Linked DNA regions of Homo sapiens: region 2 is linked to region 1. Evidence: fine-mapped expression QTL. A gene starts in region 1. The other region holds a variant in brackets. All regions are shown on one strand. Distances are from middle to middle.

Region 1 (5,383 bases):
AATACCCAAAGGACATAAAAAATATAAGGCAAGCCAAATTCTGAAGCTTAAGGGCAGGTACATGCATGGAGCTAATGATTTATTCATTTGATGAGCGTTAATTGTGTACTATGCACTAAATACCATTTAAGAAGCACATAATTTTCTAGGTTATAAAATCATAGTGCAGTGTTTCAATTAAAAAGAACTGATGCTTATACTGGAAATCTCTATACAGCAGCCACAGTTTTTCCTATAAGTTGTGAAACCCCAGGAAATAACCAGTAGACACAGTTTTCTGCAATGGGTGCCTTGCCTTCTCTGTAACAGTGTCTTATCCATAATGTGGAATCTAGAGCTGATTAAACATGGGTCCTGGACATTCCTGAAGAGCTGACCACTTGACATTTCCAAGCACATTGAGCAAATAATAAACACACCAGCTCATAAACTTGATAATCGTCTAAAGAAACCATGGTTCACATCTTGAAAACTGCAGAATTGCAGAATCCTGACATGGATTCTCCAGTTTAATATGCTTTGGTTTATCCAGGGGCTTTTGGCTTTTAATTTAATTTGGTGGCACTTTGAAAGTGAAGCTCCTGGAGGTCAGTTTGCTGGCCGCTAAAGAACTATTAATCTCATCTCCAAACAGCATTTGGTCTTTTTTAAGTGGGCTTTCTAGCAACGCAAGAACCTCTAGCATTCAAGGAAAATGTGATTATGAGCAAATTGCATCTGCTTACATTTTTATCATGAAAAGGAAATTGAAACTTGCGATCATACATTCTAAGAACCTGGTTTGAGGTTTGTTCTGTTTTAACTTCGAAATCCTTTAATACCATGGCTAACTCTGATGAAATATTTTTTCCTGTAAGTCAAACAAAGATAGGCAAACCTTCGAGAAGCCTGTACCAAACCAAAGCTCTTATCCTACTCTCCTCAGGAATCATCACTGAAAAATTTCTATAGTTCAGCAGTCTCCGCTAGGAGCAATTGTGCCCTCCAGGGACCTTGGGCAATATCCCAAACCTTTTTTTTGTTGCCACAACTTGGTGGTGGTGGTGGTGGTGGGGGGTGGGGTGGGGTCAAGGTTGCTACTAGTATCTAGTGAGTAGAGGCCACAGGTGCTGCTAAACATCCTACAATGCACAGGGCAGCCCATCACCCCAACAAATAATTATCCAGCCCAGCCCGAAAGGTCAATAATGCTGCGGTGGAAAAACCATATTCTAGTGGACACCTAAGTAGAAAGCAAGACATCACAGTTAGAGAACCAGAAAACCTCTTCCGTTGCCGGAAGGCTGCCCTAGTGCCCTGGTGAAGAACAGACTTTGGGCCAGAATACCTAGGTTTGCACCCTGGCTCCATCTCTTACTGGCTATGCTTCCTCAGGCAAATTACTTTACCTCTCTGTGCCTCGTTTTTCTCTTCTACAACACGGAGATGATGATAATAGTACCTTACACACAGAGCCATTATGGCTTTGGGTAGGTTAATAGTCCTGAAGTGCTTAGAACAGTGCCAGGTCGACAGTCACCATGTAAGCGTGCATTTACTAAGCGTCTTTGCCGATCTCTGGAAAAAATATTTCAGGTCTCAGCTAAGCTTAAGGGCAGTAGGGAACGGCTTCAGAGTCTGCATTGCCATAGCAAGAATGAGAATGGTTGTCATCTGACAACCGTGTCCTTTCTTTCCAGTTCATCAACCCTAATCAGAGAGCAGTGAGGAGAGCAGCCCGGCTGGCTCAGCTCAAGAACAGTAAATGCTTTATCGTCCTCGGTTTCTTTCCCTCCTTCCCCAGCAAAACTAGCGACTGACAAGCACTTGGTGTCCTGTGAATAGAGTGGAAAACACAAAACCGCACAGACACAGAACCCACCCACCGACACGCATACCAACCCTCACACACCTGCCCCTACAGCAGGTCTGCAGACCATCAAGCCCGCACGCACCCACGGGTCTGCGTGCAGAGCCTCCCTCCTCCTGCAACCCTCCGGACGCAGCCAGGTGGGGCACAGCTGATGCAAAAGGAGCTAACTAGGTGCAAAGCCCCGCCACAGGAGAGCAGGGAGGAAAGCCCGTGGGCGCTCCCGGCCTGGTATCCAGGTTAAATCCCGTCGCAGCGCGCACAGGCACACGTGCACACTCACACCCATACACGCGGGGGTGCCTGCAAAGACATGGGGCCCCAAAGCGGGACCTCAGGCCGGGGGTGGGGGGAAGCCAATCGCCAGTCAGACACTCACCTGGCCGCGTTCCCGAAACCACCTGCCACCCAGGAGAGCAGCAGCGGGAGCGCAAGGCTCCAGGGCAGAGGCATTCTCGCACGGGTCCTCCTTCCTCCTCCTGAGCCCCCCTCGGGAGGGCGCCGGCCGGACCCCGTAGCAGCTAAGCCGCCGCCTCCTCTCTCCTCAGCCGCTCGGGTCCTCCGCTCCACTCGCAGTTACCGGGTGCTGTCCCTGCAGTCTGGGAGGGGAGGCCAGGCACCGCGGCAGGGGCGCTCGCGGCCTGGGGAGGGGCTGGGGGCGCCCTGGCAAGCCTGGCCGAGGCTCCTCTGCGGATGAAGCTGGACGGGGTGAGCGAGGGAGGGCGGGGCGGGCTGTGCACATCTGGCTGGGACCCGCCTCCAGCATGACCCGCGCATCCTCCGCGCTCTCTGTTCACCCAGAAACTTCCCCCAGATTCAGGTCACTTCACGCTTGTCAGAGTCACCATCTACTACCATGTATTTCAGGCATGGGGCAAATTTCGGTGATACCTGCACTCCAGGACTTAAGAATTTAGTTGAGAAGTCGAAGCAGGATGGAAGGATGCAGGTTCCTAAGACATGATCCCTCACTTCTCTTTGGGTTTTCACGTTCTCCCGGTTTTCTTCTACAAACTGCAAATAATGGGATGCTAGAGCTGGAAGGTCACTAAGTCCTGGGCAACCCTGTCATTTGGCAAGTAATCTCTCAGGCCCATTTGCAACAGCTTACTTACATGGGACCCCAGATGACATCCCAATATAGTAACCAGTGCAGAAATTCATGGCAGAAACATGAATGCTATATGAATTCAGATCCATTTGGGTACTGACACATTCTTTGTTCTGACAACGTGTTACATTAGAATGAATGACTGATCCCTTTCTGTCCTTCCTACGTCCACACCCTTTGGCTTCATGGTAGGCAGACACTATGACCCCACACCTTGGCTTTGGACTTGGCCGTGTGACTTGTTTGATCAATGGTTTAAGGGCAGAAAAGTTGCAGTGTTCCAGTTCCAAGCCTAGGTCTTAACACACCTGACCCTCTATCATGGACATGAGAAGACCTTGCACCACCTAGCCTGGTGGTCCAAGGCGAATGAGAAACAGGTGAAAAAGCTACCTCGTCAACCTGCAGATCTATAGCTTGAAGCAGAGCTACTCGGTGGAGCCTCATGTATATTACCCAATCCACACGTATATGAATGAGCTCAGCTAAGGTTGCCCGGCACCAGCCAATCTACTGAGGCTTATTGTGATAGTCCTCTGACACACAGTGGCCCAGTGTGAGAAATGAAATGAAAAAGGATACAGAGAAAGAGGAGGTTTATCTTGATTGGAAGCTTGATTCATGGTTTTATAGGCATATGCCTTAATTCTGGCCAATGAAATGTGAGAAGTAGGGAGGGGGGAGATTCTTGCTGCAGAATCTTGCTTTACATTGTAATAGATGTTCTTATTGGTGCAAGCCATGTTTAGTTGGGACTTCTATTTTACAGTTGAAGGTATCCCCATGGATTCAGTATTCTTGGGTAACTAGTTAGACCATTGAGCTGCTCGTAATTAATAGTGTCAGACCTTGTCCTAAACACATATGTTATCTGATTGAACATCCACAAGCCTGTGGATGGAGACCATTAGTTCCCCCATGTTTGAAGTGTCAAGAAACTGAGTCGGAGAGGTTAAGCAGCTTGCCCGACCAAGGTCATACAGCTAACAAGTATAGAACCAGAACTGGAAACCAGGGCTTTTCCCCATTGGGCTCTGCTGCTGTTATATCAATCTCTTTTCTCATCTTCTCACGTATTGGCAGATTCACATGTCAGATGAGTATCATGAATAAGGTAATAAGATGAGCTCTTCAAGGTTGTCATCAAAACACTTTGAACTCTTCATACCATAACTTATTTTATTTACTGAAATATTAAAACTAAAAGAAAATAATATAAGTTATGAACTCTATACCTGTGAGGATCTTAAAGAAAATGGAATATAAAATTTGTCTTGTTGTGGGTTTCCCCACAAGCAGGCCCTGAGGCAAGGATTCAAGTAAAAGTAGTTTATTCTGGAGGTACAGAGAACATGGGTAGGTGAGTGAGGAAATGAGTTGGGAAAGAAGACAATATCAGGCATATATTAAGTTATCATTGTGAGCAACTGGAGGTTCATGCTGCTGGGGATCTCCCAGAGCCAGCATAGAACAAGCATCTCCAAATGATTTTACCTAAAAGGCAAGGGAACTGGGTATTTATACACCACTTCCATTCACTCATTACCTGAAAGCTTCAACTGTGGTACTGATCCTAGAACTCAGTCTTCTGTGCTGAAGACAGAGTGGGGCTTACAGCCAAAGAAAGCCCTCAGGCAAATGGCTAGTGATACTGACTGTTGAAGGTCCTACTGAAATGTAAGGCCTGAGGGGATACGGGTAGTGGCATGACATTGGCAGCTACCTAATATCTGGAACTTGAATCGAATTAAAAATTATGGATTTTTGCCCATGCCACTTCTCCCTTAACATTTGGATACTAATCACTCCCTCCTCCAAATAAACCATTACTCAAAAAAGTCCTAACTAAACATGATTAGTCTAAAATGTGAGGGCTATCTGCCTTCTTAGTCCTGAGTTACAAAGTCAGAATAACATCTTGCATTGACATTATCTGTAACTTTCTAGCTTTAGTTTCAGTATTTTGATGCTTTGTGCTTTTTCTTTGTCAGCTGAATTCTCTTTTGTAGGCTTAAAGGAGGTAATGGACATTACAACAGGAAACTTTGGGGGAGGTCAAACACTCCCCAGCCAACCCACCTATTATTTCCTGGGGGAGCTGTGAACAAAAGAGCTGTCACATAATATGAGCAACAGAGAAGGAACCTGCAAATGATGTGTTGCCAGGTGAGAAGATGTTGGATACAAATTGCCACATGGAGGCAGTTGTTTTTAGTAACTGCACTGGTGTTGCTGACTTTGAAGAGGAACCTGGAAACTGATCTTTAGGGGACCCTACTTCATCATTCTACAGAGAAAAAACAATCTTTGATCAGAATCTCATAAAATCGTCCGTGCCTTTTACAGGGCTACATTTTCTTCCAATCTATTTCCACTTAACCCCCTGTGTGGAACAGGTGTGATGGGATATTTCTGTGCTTTCT
Region 2 (5,320 bases), 28 kb before region 1:
CAAATGGAATAATTATACACCACTGGAAGGAATGTAAATTGGTACAACACTTTGGAAAACTGCTTGGCAGAATCTACTAGAGCTATATTTAGACATACTCATGACCTGGAAATTCCAGTCCTGGGATTTCCCCTACATACTAAAATGCTCATAATAGCATGATACTAGATAGCCCCAAACTAGAAGTAATCCAAACACCTCCCAACAGAAGAATAGATAAATGACTTGTATATTCACACAATGGAATACTATATAGCAATGAAACTGAACAAACGACAACTATAGGCAACAATGGATGAATCTCACAAACATGATATTGAGTGGAAGCTGGATATAAACGTGTATATACTGTATGAGTCCATTTATATACAGTTAAAAAATAAGCACAGCTAATCTGTGATATAAGAGGTCAACATATGGTTCTCTCACTGGCAGTGGAAGTGACTGGAAGGTGTGTGAGGGAGTCTTCTGAAGGGCCAAGTTTCTGGCTTTTGATCTAGATACTAGTGACATGGGCATTTAGAAAAATTCATCGAGCCATACATTTTTTATATATGCACAATTCTATGTGTATACTACTTGAACAATAATTTAGAAATAGATAATTTATATATTTCTGCCTTTCATGCTATCCCAAGCAGCCGCTGACATAAGCTGACAGCACAGCCTCCTGTCGATTATTATTTTGGCTGGCCCCTGCACTGGCCAAATTGCCTTGGCTCACATTCCTCTAGAGGGAGCCCTGTCAGACAGCTCTTAGTGGTGAAGTTGGAGGACAATATTTAATCCTAAGTAAAGATGTTCACAGGATGACATTTGGGCTGGATGATTTAAAAAAATATATATATATATATGAATTATATATATGTGAATTATATATATGAAATATATATATGAATTATATATATGTGAATTATATATATGAAATATATATGAATTATATATGTGAATTATATATATGAAATATATATATGAATTATATATATGTGAATTATATATATATGAAATATATACATATGACGTTCACAGGATGTTACGTGATAAAAGAAGGTTACAAAACTCTGTGTACAGATCATTCCAAAATTGGTTTAAAAAATACATAGGAAAAGAAAAGCCTAGGAGGGTATGCTCTAAATGCGACTAATGGTTATCTTCAGGTGGTAAGATCGAGGGTGACTTTCTTCTCTGTGCTTTTTTGTTTTCTAAAACAACAACAACAACAACAACAACAACAACAACTTAAGAATAAGTAACATTTTTATTAAAATAAAAAATGACACAGAAGGAAAATAGAACTTTAAAAAGGATTATCTGTAGAGGATGTCGCCTTTGGAAATGTGGTCATGTGAGGGTTTCATATCTTAACTCTACCAGGGAACATACAGAGAGGAAAAAAACAAACAAATTCCATGGAAGGCAAAAGGTCAGCATGGTAACAGATTCTTGAAAATAAGGAGCTGCTTTCATCTCTGAAAATATCCTTATATGGGGATTTTCCAGTGCCCTAGCTGGACATTTGAAACCCTCTTCTCCACTGCCTATCCCCTTTACCCTACCATCTCCCTCATAGAACCTAACCTCTTCAAATGGGGAAATTGAAAAATGCTGATTGGACATAACGGGAAACCCAGGAATATCCCATAGCTTGGCCCTAACTCTGAGGTGACTCACTCATTTCTTGGAAGAGTGTTTTGGGAAAGACATGAGTTGAGGGCTGAGGCCTGTCACCATTAATGGATGTACGTGGACTTTGATCAGGCTGCCACAGGGCAGGGAGGCTGTGGGAAGAAAACAGACTGCCTCAAAACTTGATCCAACTGGACCACTCCCTCAACGTTAATATTTTGCTGAGACTTTAAAACTAGCGTGGAAAATATTGTCTCTATTCCAAATCTCTTGAGACAGTATCTTGGTTCAGAATCCAAAACATATGGAAAACCAAGTTTTCTGCTGTAAAACCTCTGGTGAAGGGTATAGCTGAATTATTACTTATGAAAGCATGATTTTTTTTTCTGAGATGGAGTCTCGCTCTGTTGCCCAGGCTGCAGTGCAGTGGCGCGATCTCAGCTCACTGCAACCTCCACCTCCCAGGTTCATGTGATTCTCCTGCCTCAGCCTCCCGAGTAGCTAGGATTACAGGCATTCGCCACCACGCCTGGCTAATTTTTGTATTTTTAGTAGAGATGGGGTTTTGCCATGTTGGCCAGGCTGGTCTCAAACTCTTGACCTCAAGTGATCCACCCACCTCGACCTCCCTAAGTGCCGGAATTACAGGTGTGAGCCACTGTGCCCACCCTGAATGCACGATTCTTGAAGCACCTCTCTCAAGCAATTGCATGCAATTCTAAGAAACATCTCCAGGGCTCTGGCCTCTATGCTGGTGGCAGGACGCAGAGAGCCAGATTGCTCTCCGAGACTGTAGGGCTGGCAGCTCAAAGAGCGGCTATTTCAGTTTATGGGGCTAACCTCTGGGCTTGGCAGCAAGGGCTGGGAGTGGTAGAGTGGAGTGGGTGTCCAGTCTTCTCTGAAACTCCATTCTCCAAGGGCAGCTGAATTGGATTTACTGCTCTTTGTTCAACTTCCTTATAGGACTGGGGACCCTTTCTGAATTATTGAAGATTTCTTCATGCCAGGGTTTCTTAACTTCCGTTGACACAAATCATTATTTGTTGTGGGGACTGTCCTGTGCACTGCAGGATGTTTAGCGGCATCCCTGGGCTCCATTCACTAGATGCCGGGAGTACCTCCCACATCCAGTTATGACAACCAAAATTGTCCCCAGTCATTGTCAAGTATCC[T/C]GTGGATGACAAAATCAGCCAAGTTGAAATCTGCTGATCTATAGCAAAGACCATATCCCTTGCTCCAATGAGGCACTTTTATTCACCACGTTTACAGCAGGGTTTTTCAGCCTTGGCACTACTGACATTTGGGTCTGATCATTCTTTGTTGTGGGTGCTGCTATCCTGTGCATTGTGTAAGGTGCTTTGCAGCATCCCTGATCTCTACCCATTAGACACCAGTAGCACCCCCTCCAAATGTCCTCAGACACTGCCAGATGTTGCCCGGGATAAGGCTCCCAGATTTGGCAAATAAAAATACAAGATTCCAGCTGGGTGTGGTGGTGTGTGCCTGTAGTCAGGAGTCTGAGGCGAGAGGATTGCTTTGAGGCCAGGAGATCATGGATGCAGTATAGTCACTGCACTCCAGCCTAGGCAACATAGTGAGACCCCCATCTCTAAACAAAACAGTAAAGGATTCTCAGATAAATTTGAATGTCAGATAAATGACTAATACTTTTAAAGTATACACACTTCTCATATACTATTTTGAGAGCTTGTTTGGAGGTGCTAGCAGGGGAGCACAGCTAATATACCCTTGACTGAAGGTAAGTCCTCCTCTATCGGGGATGGTCGTCCTCTCCACACGAGCGCGCAGCTTCAGGAGGGACACACATGGAGCAGTGAGGGAGGAAGGGGACATCTGCCTAGCCAGCCAGATCAGCCAAATCAACCCAGGTGAGCAATGGGGTGACAGATGTCACAGCCAGATCACCCTCACATCCCCTATATACTATTTTGAACAAACATATACTATAAAATTATTTGTTGTTTATCTGAAATTTAAATCTAACTTGGTATCTGTATTTTATCTGGCAACGCTTCCTGGGAGACAAAATTACCCAGGTTGAGAACCACTGTTATAGATATTATCATCTCTTTAATGTTTTCAGACAAACAATCTAGGATGAAAGTTATAAATTATCTGTTATGATATATCAAGGCCAGGTGTGGTGGCTAAGCCTTTAATTCCAGCACTTTGGGAGGGCAAGGCGGGAGGATGGCTTGAGCCCAGGAGTTCAAGACCAGCCTGGGCAACGTAGTGGGACCTCGTCTATACAAAAACTGTAAAAAGTAGCCAGGCATGGTGGTGTGTGCCTGTGGTCCCTGCTACTCAGAAGGCTGAGATGGGAGGATTGCTAGAGCCCAGGTGGCTGAGGCTGCAGTGAGCCATGATCACGCCACTGCACTCTACCCTGGGTGACAGAGCGAGACTCTGTCTCAAAAAAAAAAAAAAAGTATATGAAGTATAATAAAAATATGCACGTTGTTCAACCCAACAATTCCACTTTTAAATATTTTTCCTACAAAAATATTCATTCAAGAAAGCAGGGCTATGCAGAGAACAATGTTAGATTTAGCACTGTTTGTAATGGCAAAAAATTGGAGACAACATAAATGATAATGGTTAAATAAAGCACATTTTTGCACAAAGGATAAAAGTATTCACACTAGGGACTAGGATACAGCCTTAAAAAATGTAAAGTAGTTCTGTGTGTGCTGACATGCAAAGATGCCTATGAGAAAAACTTACATTTATACTATCACAGAAAAAGACTTCCAGGATCTAAGACAAACTTAACTATGCTTATAGTAAAAACTAGTGGTGATCACTCTCACTTTTAAGTTTATATTTTTTTGCACTGCTGGATTTTTAAAAATAAAAATATACTTATAATACATAGGTAGTTTAAAAAGCAATAAAATTATTTACTTTTTAAAAAGGCTCTTTTTTTCTGTGTTACGGAAAGAGATGAAATAAAAAAGTAAAAAATATAAAAGACCTTTAGCTTATTTAAAAAAGATAAAAAAAGAAAAGAAAAGAAAAAAGGCCTTTTATTGGGCATCTTGACAAAAACATCAGACTTTTTACATTTTTCAAGGAGAAGAGATTGAAAAACTTGTCCTGAAAGCACCTTCATTTGAAGATTTGACTTTAAAAAAACCCTAAGAAATCCTGCGTACCATATTGAGTCGCCAGCCCTGCTGCAATGATTGAATTTGAACTATGACCCTGGGCTACCTTACTGACCTTGACTGCAGGTTTTCCCGGTGTATCCTGGAAAGCATCTGCATTTGTTTGGTCCCACGCACTCACCAAACTTACATCCAGGTTCGCATGTAGCTGTGGAAGGAAAAGATGTCTTGATGATAAAAGAACAGTAGTTAGTGTAGTGAAATGCACGCAAAACTTCGCTGCGTTCTGTGTGGCAGAGAACTCCATGGGGACATACAGAGGACAATCTGCCTCCCTTTGAAGGGAGGCAATACCACACTTCCAGTGGTATTCAATGAAATATAAAGCCTTCCAGACCACAGTCAGCCAGTTTTGCATGCAAACACAAAAGATTTAATAAAATAAGTATAATGTTGGAACTGGAAGAGACTCCAGAGTAACCCTGGGCAAATGCCAACGTCATTCCCCTTCCTTCTGTCTCTTGCCTCGTTTCATCTCCTCCATATTTTCTCCATTTCTCTTTTAA

What was found. PIP is the estimated chance that this variant, and not a neighbour inherited with it, causes the effect.
Region 2: its variant is the best candidate, but not a certain one, in a credible set for the expression of EGFL6 in lung (TOPMed, PIP 0.89).

The regions. Positions count from the first base shown.
Region 1 is chrX:13,566,781-13,572,163 of GRCh38, reverse strand. It overlaps EGFL6 (EGF like domain multiple 6), which reads right to left and starts at 2,563. Exons shown (of 12, transcript NM_015507.4): 1 at 2,229-2,563. The coding sequence starts at 2,302.
Region 2 is chrX:13,594,478-13,599,797 of GRCh38, reverse strand. It overlaps EGFL6 (EGF like domain multiple 6), which reads right to left. Exons shown (of 12, transcript NM_015507.4): 3 at 4,870-4,962. It also overlaps the pseudogene RN7SKP20. Among named protein-coding and RNA genes, the nearest start is that of MIR6086, 6.8 kb to the right of the region's middle. The variant T/C (reference allele first, on the strand shown) is at 2,799.